2 separate regions of the Homo sapiens genome follow, and region 2 is linked to region 1. Evidence: fine-mapped expression QTL. A gene starts in region 1. The other region holds a variant in brackets. All regions are shown on one strand. Distances are from middle to middle.

The links. PIP is the estimated chance that this variant, and not a neighbour inherited with it, causes the effect. A credible set is the group of variants that fine-mapping cannot tell apart.
Region 2: its variant is the best candidate, but not a certain one, in a credible set for the expression of TRUB1 in whole blood (INTERVAL, PIP 0.73).

The regions. Positions count from the first base shown.
Region 1 is chr10:114,936,131-114,940,526 of GRCh38, forward strand. It overlaps TRUB1 (TruB pseudouridine synthase family member 1), which reads left to right and starts at 2,065. Exons shown (of 8, transcript NM_139169.5): 1 at 2,065-2,409. The coding sequence starts at 2,124. RefSeq lists an enhancer at 1,897-2,436.
Region 2 is chr10:114,957,687-114,962,082 of GRCh38, forward strand. It overlaps TRUB1 (TruB pseudouridine synthase family member 1), which reads left to right. Exons shown (of 8, transcript NM_139169.5): 4 at 2,040-2,121. Among named protein-coding and RNA genes, the nearest start is that of TRUB1, 22 kb to the left of the region's middle. The variant G/A (reference allele first, on the strand shown) is at 2,098.

The DNA.
Region 1 (4,396 bases):
CGTGCCTGTAATCCCAGCACTTTGGGAGGCCGAGGCAGGCGGATCACCTGAGGTTGGGAGTTCATGACCAGCCTGACCAACATGGAGAAACCCCGTCCCTACTAAAAATACAAAATTAGCTGGGCATGGTGCCACATGCCTGTAATCCCACCTACTCAGGAGTCTGAGGCAGGAGAATCATTTGAACCCGGGAGGCGGAGGTTGCAGTGAGCTGAGATTGTGCCACTGCACTCCAGCCTGGGCAACAAGAGTGAAACTCTGTCTCAAAAAAAAAAAAAAAAAAAAAAAAGACACAAGTGAGTAGCATAAAAGAAGGATGTGCAGCTAGAGACAGAGAACTTTCTAGGTTCTGAATAGTGTGTCAGTGTATTTCTGATAAATCTTCTCCCCCTGTGCCCCCAAGCTGGTATGAATCAGTTTTCTGTTGACCAAAGAGCCCAAACTCATACATGTATTGGAGCAAAAAAAACCTGTGAATTCAAGGCCTGCCCAATGTGGGAGATGTTGATTACCTTAGAAAAACAAAGCTTGGTGCTTCTGATCCCAAGAATGCCGATATAATAGCAGAGTAGCATTAATTTTGTTGTGTCCTAGCATCCCAGAAATCAAACATGCAAGAAATATACATTTCTTCATTTTCTTTAAATCAGATTAACTCTGGTCCTACACTGGGCTGATGGAAAATTCAAATATAAGCATCATATGTTACCCCTAGTTCTGTTCTCCCTCTGCATCCCTCACCCCCAGAGCCACAAGAGAAATAGGGAGGCTTGCTGATGTCCGGACAATTGGGAAAAGGCCTCTAATCTCCAAGTGCCTTGGAGTCATCCAAGTCATCATTGATCAAGCCTTGCAACCTTCCCTGCAAGTCCCTGGCTCTCTGCTTCCATGGCACAAGAATAGAGAACTCTTTCCTGAGGCTAATGGACACCATGCTCCTTTGGGTGCAGTCATCCCTTCTGAAGTCACAACATCTTTGTGGAAAAATTAACATCTTGAAGCAGGGCCAGGTGTCCACTAATCCTGTGATATGCCAATCTTTTCAGTTAGCTTAGGCTTTTATAATAGACCACAAGAGTAAGTGACTTCCTTCTAGGAGTTTCAGCTTTCCACCCTGAAAAAACTCCCTCAAAGATTTTTTTTTCCTTTTAATAAATTGTTCTGCCATGTGTCTGTTGCACGAATGGGTGCAAGTTCAAATGGGACCCCATAACTGGTGATTGTGAGCAGCTAAGGGGCATCACTAAAATACTAGATATTAAAGTCCAAGAGTATGATGAGGACAAAGAGTGGTTGTAAAGAAACCTAAAAAACAATGAGGGCAAACTTTATCTGTCTCACAATAGTTATGATAGCATTTAATGTTTCTGGTGCAGAAGTAATTTTTCTCCACTCTGCCTTGTGCTGGAATCAAAACAATATTCCTCAATCTTGTTAGGGAGTGAATAACTTTTAGGGAGAAGGTCTCAAATGGGAAGTGGTTTAAAGTTTATGAATTGCAAGAATACCTTTTGATATCTAAACAAAGTGTACTAAGGAATTCAACCCACAGAAGAGCTGATATTCAAAATCAGAATTATTAAAAATTGTAGTGGGGTCAGTGGGGGTTTGGGGAGGGTGAACAGGAGTGCATGAAGAGCATCAAAATAAGCACAAGTGATTTACCATTGGCTTGGTTTCTTCGGGGAATTTGAAGAATTCATACTTATTTATACGTTTTCAAATATTTATTTAAGTGCCTACAACATGTGAGGCATTTGGGAATGTCTCAGTTAACGTGGTACATAAGTTCCTTGCTCTAATAGAGCTCACATTTGGATGTCTTCTAATTCTGAACCTGAATGTAAGAGCACAATACAATCAATGAAGCAGTGAGCCCAGGAAGCCATGGATCTTCACAAGCCTCAGGAAAAGTCAACATTTAAAATTTTCTATTTAAAGTCCAAGGGCACAGCAAGCTCTTGGTCTATATGGGAAGGCCATGGACTACAATTCCCACAAGTCCGTGCGACCTCTCCGTTCTGCGCAGCTTCGCGGTATGAGGAAGAGGGTCCTGTCAGGCGCACTCTTGTTGCATCATCAGCGTGCACCTCCACGATGAAACAGGTCTGGGCTACAAAAGTATGGCCGCTTCTGAGGCGGCGGTGGTGTCTTCGCCGTCTTTGAAAACAGACACATCCCCTGTCCTTGAAACTGCAGGAACGGTCGCAGCAATGGCTGCGACCCCGTCAGCAAGGGCTGCAGCCGCGGTGGTTGCGGCCGCGGCCAGGACCGGATCCGAAGCCAGGGTCTCCAAGGCCGCTTTGGCTACCAAGCTGCTGTCCTTGAGCGGCGTGTTCGCCGTGCACAAGCCCAAAGGGCCCACTTCAGCCGAGCTGCTGAATCGGTTGAAGGAGAAGCTGCTGGCAGGTACTGCAGCCCGGGTGGGGACCAGGCTGAGGCGGTCGCTGCGAGAGGGGAAGCACATTAGGCTTTTTGCGACGCTCGTGATTCAAGAGACAAAAGGAGGGGAAAGGGAGACTGACCATTGAATTAGCTCTGGACAGGAATCTCGGGCATCTCGGGCTTGGACTTGCCCTGGCACGAACTCTTGTAGCCTACTTGGCAGTTGTAGTTCTCAACGGGAGGAAAAAAATCCCGTACTTACACAATAAAACCCTGCCCTTGGGCGTGCAGACCTGTTTTCTGTAATCTGATCGATCCCTCAGGAGGCTTTTGTTGGGTTCATGTGGATGAACCCCAAAAGGAAGTACTGGTTCTGCACCCCTAAAGTTGCATTCCTCAAAATGTATTGGAAATGCAGATATACTTCGTTAACCAAGACTTAATATAGTCGTTTTCACATTTTAATGGGCCTAACAATTACTTAGAGTCTCTTGTACAAATACAGATTCCTAATCCCTGCCCTGTCCGAGATTGTGATTCGGAGAGTTCGGGGTATTTTTAGGAAACTGCAATTCTAAATAGTTGCTCCAGGTGATTCCAGTGTAAGTAGTTTATGGACCACATTTGAGGAACACTAAATATAACTTGGCCACTAAGCTGAGAGTGTTCATTTTATTGATTCGTTTATTCACGTACACTGGGAAAATAGTAGAAAAGCCTAGAGAATCACCCCGTTAATCAGCTCGGATGATTTCACACATAAAGCATCCAGGATCCTTAAGTTCATTGGACATATACAATAAGCCAGGTCTGTGCTAGCCTATAGAGACTTGAAGATGAAAGATAACTCTCTTACCTTAACTGAGCTGATAGCCTAGTAATTTCTGCACCTTGTGGTGGTAAAACTAGTTAGTTAGGTTATTCAAGGCCCTCCAGAGTTTGGCCGTATTCTGTCTCGCCATTAAACCAGTAACAGGGACTTTCTTACATTGTTTAGTGTCCCATGGAAAACTTTACACTTTAAAAAAATGCAAAAACAAATTATTCTGATGGGAATTATAACTGACAGTACAGATTTAAGTGTTTATGGGCAAATAGGTACACTCCTGCAGATGTTTAATTCCAGTATCACGACTACTTATTCTTTTATTAAAGTTTTGCTTTGTTGCCTGAAAGTATGGGTCATACAGAGGACGTCAAAGTGAGGAATTGCATCAAGGATATGTATTGTGGTATCATCATAGTTTTTTAGTTTTCCTTCATAGAACTGCTGCTTTCCTGATTTGTTAGCTAAACTCTGGGTTTCTTTTCTTTTTTTTTTTTTTTTATCCTTAAGGTAATGATTACCATTCTTTCAGACAAGTTTCTGACAAAGCCATATTCTGGCCTTCTGGCTAATCTGCCTCTAAGAACTGAAGTTTCTTGTTGAATCTTGGTTAAAATGTTTCAAGGCTCTTGCTAGGCTAGAACCTTTAGCTAGAGACATTCTCATTATCCTCGATTTCTATATTGCTTGTGATTGGCCTATTTTGTATTTATGTTAGTTAGGCTAGGGCTTTCCAAATGTCATTGTAATTGGCTGTCAGAATTGCTTGGGAAGTTTTTGTTTTTGTTTTTGTTTTTGAGATGGAGTTTCGCTGTTGTTGCCCAGGCTGGAGTGCAATGGCAAGATCTCGGCTCACTGCAACCTTCCCCTCCTGGGTTCAAGTGATTCTCCTGCCTCAGCCTCCCAAGTAGCTGGGATTACAGGCATGCACCACCATGCCCAGCTAATTTTGTATTTTTGGTAGAGACGGGGTTTCTCCATGTTGGTCAGGCTGGGCTCGAACTCCCGACCTCAGGTGATCTGCCCGCCTCAGCCTCCCAAAATGCTGGGATTACAGGCATGAGCCACCACTCCCGGCCTTGGGAAGGTTCTTAAAGATACCTACATTCTAATGCCATGTTTGACAACCATGATCAGTGGTTGTGTCCTCTAATACCATTCCTTGTCTTTCTTTGCATTGATTCC
Region 2 (4,396 bases), 22 kb after region 1:
CACAAAACACCAAGAGTCCAGAGACTAGAATGGGCATTGCATACTTGGGAAACATGTTAAGGTTCCTAGTTCAAACTCGTTGCAGAGCAGAATACTGCAGATACATTCAAGGCATAGTCTGCAAGATTGCACCATGGTTTTCTTATGCAACTAAACAGACTCTAAAGACAAAAAAATCATAAAGCATTTTGATGCTTTGCTTTCCTTATGGGAGCTGACTGTAACCAGATGAGTCAACTCTAGCCACTGTTAACTGCGAATCATTCTGTATTTTCTTTCTTAGAAAATAAAGATGATGATGGTATTATTATCTGTTATTTACCAGGGCTAGATATTGTTACTCTAAACTCTTTGCTTCTTCTCATGAGGCATTATTGTTTTCCACATTTTAAGATAAGGAAATTAAGCTCCAGCCGGAAAGACTAACTTGGTCTACAAATTGTGGTACAGTCAGAATTCAAATCCAGCCAGTTGACCCTGAGCCTGTGCTGTTACCATTGTTGTACTTCTCTCATACTTCCCCCTGTGGTATGCTTAGTCGAGGTTGATTGTCCCAAAATATAGAAGCAGGAATGGGTGTCTCAGGTGATGAGACTGTGTTTAGTTACAAAAAACTAATTTTTGTCAATACCTATGAAACTTTAAAAAAATTAATTGAAATGCGTTGGAATATTCCCTTCTGTATTATATTTATTTTTAAAAAATCTGAGCTAGATAATATTAAGGTGATTTCATCGAAGGGCCTTAAGCTGTTATAAAATGTCTGCATACTTACAAGGTTTTGAAGTTTTAATATTTTTCTCATTTTTGTCTTGGGTCCCTTCACTAGCCTCATAAATTTGTCATGAATAAGCTTATATTTCTGCAAAGTACTTTGAGTTTTCTTTTATAAAATTGCTCACATAAATACAGATTATTTTCAGTGGGAAATAAAGTTCTTGCACTTTTTTCACTACTTCATGTGATGCCCCAAATAAAATTTGCGTTTGACCAAAGTGAAAAGAGTACGTACTACAAGTGTGTCCTAAGATGAGAAATAAGACAATCCTCACGTAACTAAGAATGATCTAATTCTTCACTTGTGAATAAAGATCAGTTCTTAGAAACGATTCTTGTTCCTGAGATCTTAAGTAGTAATTTATCTTTATTAAGAAAACACATGGCCGGGCGTGGTGGCTCACGCCTGTAATCCTAGCACTTTGGCTTTGGGAGGCCGAGGTGGGTGGATCACCTGAGGTCAGAAGTTCGAGACCAGCCTGACAACATGGTGAAACCCCATCTCTACTAAAAATACAAAAAATTAGCCGGGCGTGGTGGCGGGTGCCTGTAATCCCAGCTACTCCACAGGGTGAGGCAGGAGAATCGCTTGAACCCGGGGGACGGAGGTTGCAGTGAGCCGAGATCGCACCACTGCACTGCAGCCTGGGCAGCGAGCAAAACTCCATCTCAAACAAACAAACAAACAAAAAACACATTTAATAGTTAAGTCACTAATTCTGTGACTATACTGGTTTTGCTCTTTTTCTACAGATTTAGCTTTTGTTTAATACATGACCTAGTTACTAAGAATTGTCTTAGTATTTCATGTAAGAAGTACTAAGTTGGCTTATTTAAAATTAATTTTAATTGTATATGTGGGAAGATTATTGAATCTTATGATGACCATGGAGTCAAGGCTATTGTACCATTCTCTCTACTCATGGATAGACTTGAACATTTTCCTTAAACAAACTTCTCAGTATAAAGGTGGTTTGAGAAATTTGCTTACAATAATAATGGTCATAATTATTAAGCCATAATTATCAATAAAATCAGGTTTATCTTTCTCATATTGGCTAGTGTGAGACGTTTGTTAATGTTCTTCAGTTTACACAATTGCTTTCCACATATTAAAAACAAAACAATTGCAGTCTGTTGTTTTAGCCTGTATTTTGTATCAGGTTGGTAGTAGTAGTGAAATTCTGTGTAAACTTCAAGACATGCATAACAGTTTTTGTTTGCCTCACGGCCCATTTTCTCTCTTGTTTCCCTTCCTCTAGAGATATACTGCCATTGGAGAACTGGGGAAAGCTACTGATACACTAGATTCTACGGGGA[G/A]GGTAACAGAAGAAAAACCTTACGGTATGAAGCTCATCTAATGTAGGCCTCTTTTCTAACATTTAGGAAAAGTTTCTGTGCAGGTAGCATTTTAAAACAAATCTCTGATATTATCAGCCATTTTAATTCTCAGTGTGTTTCTTTGGGCTAAGAAGATTGGAAATTGTTTATCGCATTGTTGCTTACTTGATAGGAGTTTTTGAATAAAGATTTATTGTGATTGCCTCTTTTTCTATAGTGATGTTTTAAGTGTTCAGAATTATTCTTCCAAATAACCTCCTTGCAAAAGCATGTATGGCTAGGATTTAGGTTATTTTCCCTAGTAAACGAGAAACAAAGCAGAGATACTCTGTTAGATTTCATCTGTCTTGCCATTAAAAAAAAATATATTACCTGTCAGCTGTTGAAATAAATGTACCAGGTTTAGTACTTTAAAACTTGTCATGTTTTTGTGCTTTCGGACTATGTAAAAAGAGGACAGAGGGCAAGCTATTTCTCTGGAAGTAAACCAGAACTCACTGGGGCCCACCTTAAGTTTCCTACTATCCCTTCTTTCACTACCGTAAGGAAGAATAGATAAATTAAATGGTCTCCTAGCAACTCTCACAGTGCTTATGCTGTTTATAATGCAGCAATTGCAGTTTTCTAAGTCAGTTCACCTGCATCATTATGTCACCAATTTGTGGACTGTTTTTTTGTTTAGTGTTATCTCTTAGTCATAGGCAAGCCAGCATTTGGCCCCCTTATATTTTTGTGTTGATTATCCTTATTACGTACTGCATATTGCCCCAGTAGTGAGGCCAACCTTTTTATTGTTCATAATAGCTTCATTTTTTCTGTTAACATTTATATGTAGCTTAGTATCTTGCTCAATTAATCAAGCAACATAATGAAAAGAAAAATTACTGATTGATTTCAAGGCTTTTCAAAAACAGATGTTGAAATATTCTTGGAATTATTATTATTAATAAATAATAGCAGACCCTCACTTAACTGAAAGCCAGCTATAACCTTCAACCAGAAGACTTTAAGATTAAGGAGGCATAGGGCAATAGGAGGACGTCAGAGACTTCCAGAGGATACTAAAGTATTTATAAGTACTTATGTAATTAAGTCTCCTGTATCTCTGACTCCATTTACCAAACCATAATAAGGAGAATGATTATTATTCAGAACAGTAGTCCTGGGGTAATATAATTAAGGCTGGGGGGTGTGGGTACCACGTGGTGAAAAATATAAGGCGCACTAGAGTAGACAAATCTGGGTTTAATTTCTAGCTCTGCCCTTATCTAGCTGCGCAAATTTGAAATTTTCTTAGTCTCTTTATGTTGTAGTTTTTCCATCTCCAAAATGACAATAATGATAGCAACCTCATAGTGTGATTATGAGGATTGATTGGAGGAGAATGAATTTGGAGGTCTCATAGACAAGTCATGAGGCTCTTATAGTAGTCCAAGCAGAGATGATGGTAAGTTGGACCAGGGTGCCAGTGGTAGAGACAGAGTTTTCCTATTAGAAAAATTTCCCATGATTAGGAAGTAAAATTAGCAAGACTTGATTTTTAGTTGATTGGACAGGATAGCGAGGAAGTTGTCAACCATGACCTAGGTTTTGGGGTTTTAAAATTGGTTACATGATAGTGTAATTCATTGAGGATGCTGGAAGGGGCCCAGGGTGACAAAAATACTTAAACATATCCTTTCTTCCTATTCTTAAGCATTTTAGTATTTTAAAAAGCTCTATGCTGTATTAGGTAATTTGTAACCTTATTTACTTACCTTAAAGAAAGCTCAGTTTGTTAAATCATCTCATTGTAATGATGCAGTAAATCATAGAGAAACTAAGAACGTTTTTCAGGCTGTGAAGAGAAGAGCTTCCTACAGTTTATTGAATAGTATTTATAGTCCCGGAAAATGAGAGCTCAGAGAATTTTGCTGATTGGCATGATTTTTCTGTGTGCTTTCAGTAAATCAACAAATATTTTTTATTTGTTGAAGCTGCTATAGCAGGTACCAAGGGAAAGATAGATAAATGTAAGACCTAGCTTGTGTCCTTAAGGAACTTACTGTCTAATGGAGAACTCTGACCAATATTCTCAGCCTTCTGAGACCTAATACAGAGACCTATGACCAATATCTTATAATGCCTTCTTTACTATCCTGAAATAAAATTCAGAGATACTTGAATTTACTTATACATTGAGAAAAATCAATATGATGTAGTAAATGGAATATAAGTAAGAAATAAAAGTAATTTATAATAAAGTAGGTGCATTCATATGTAAGCACACAGATATTAG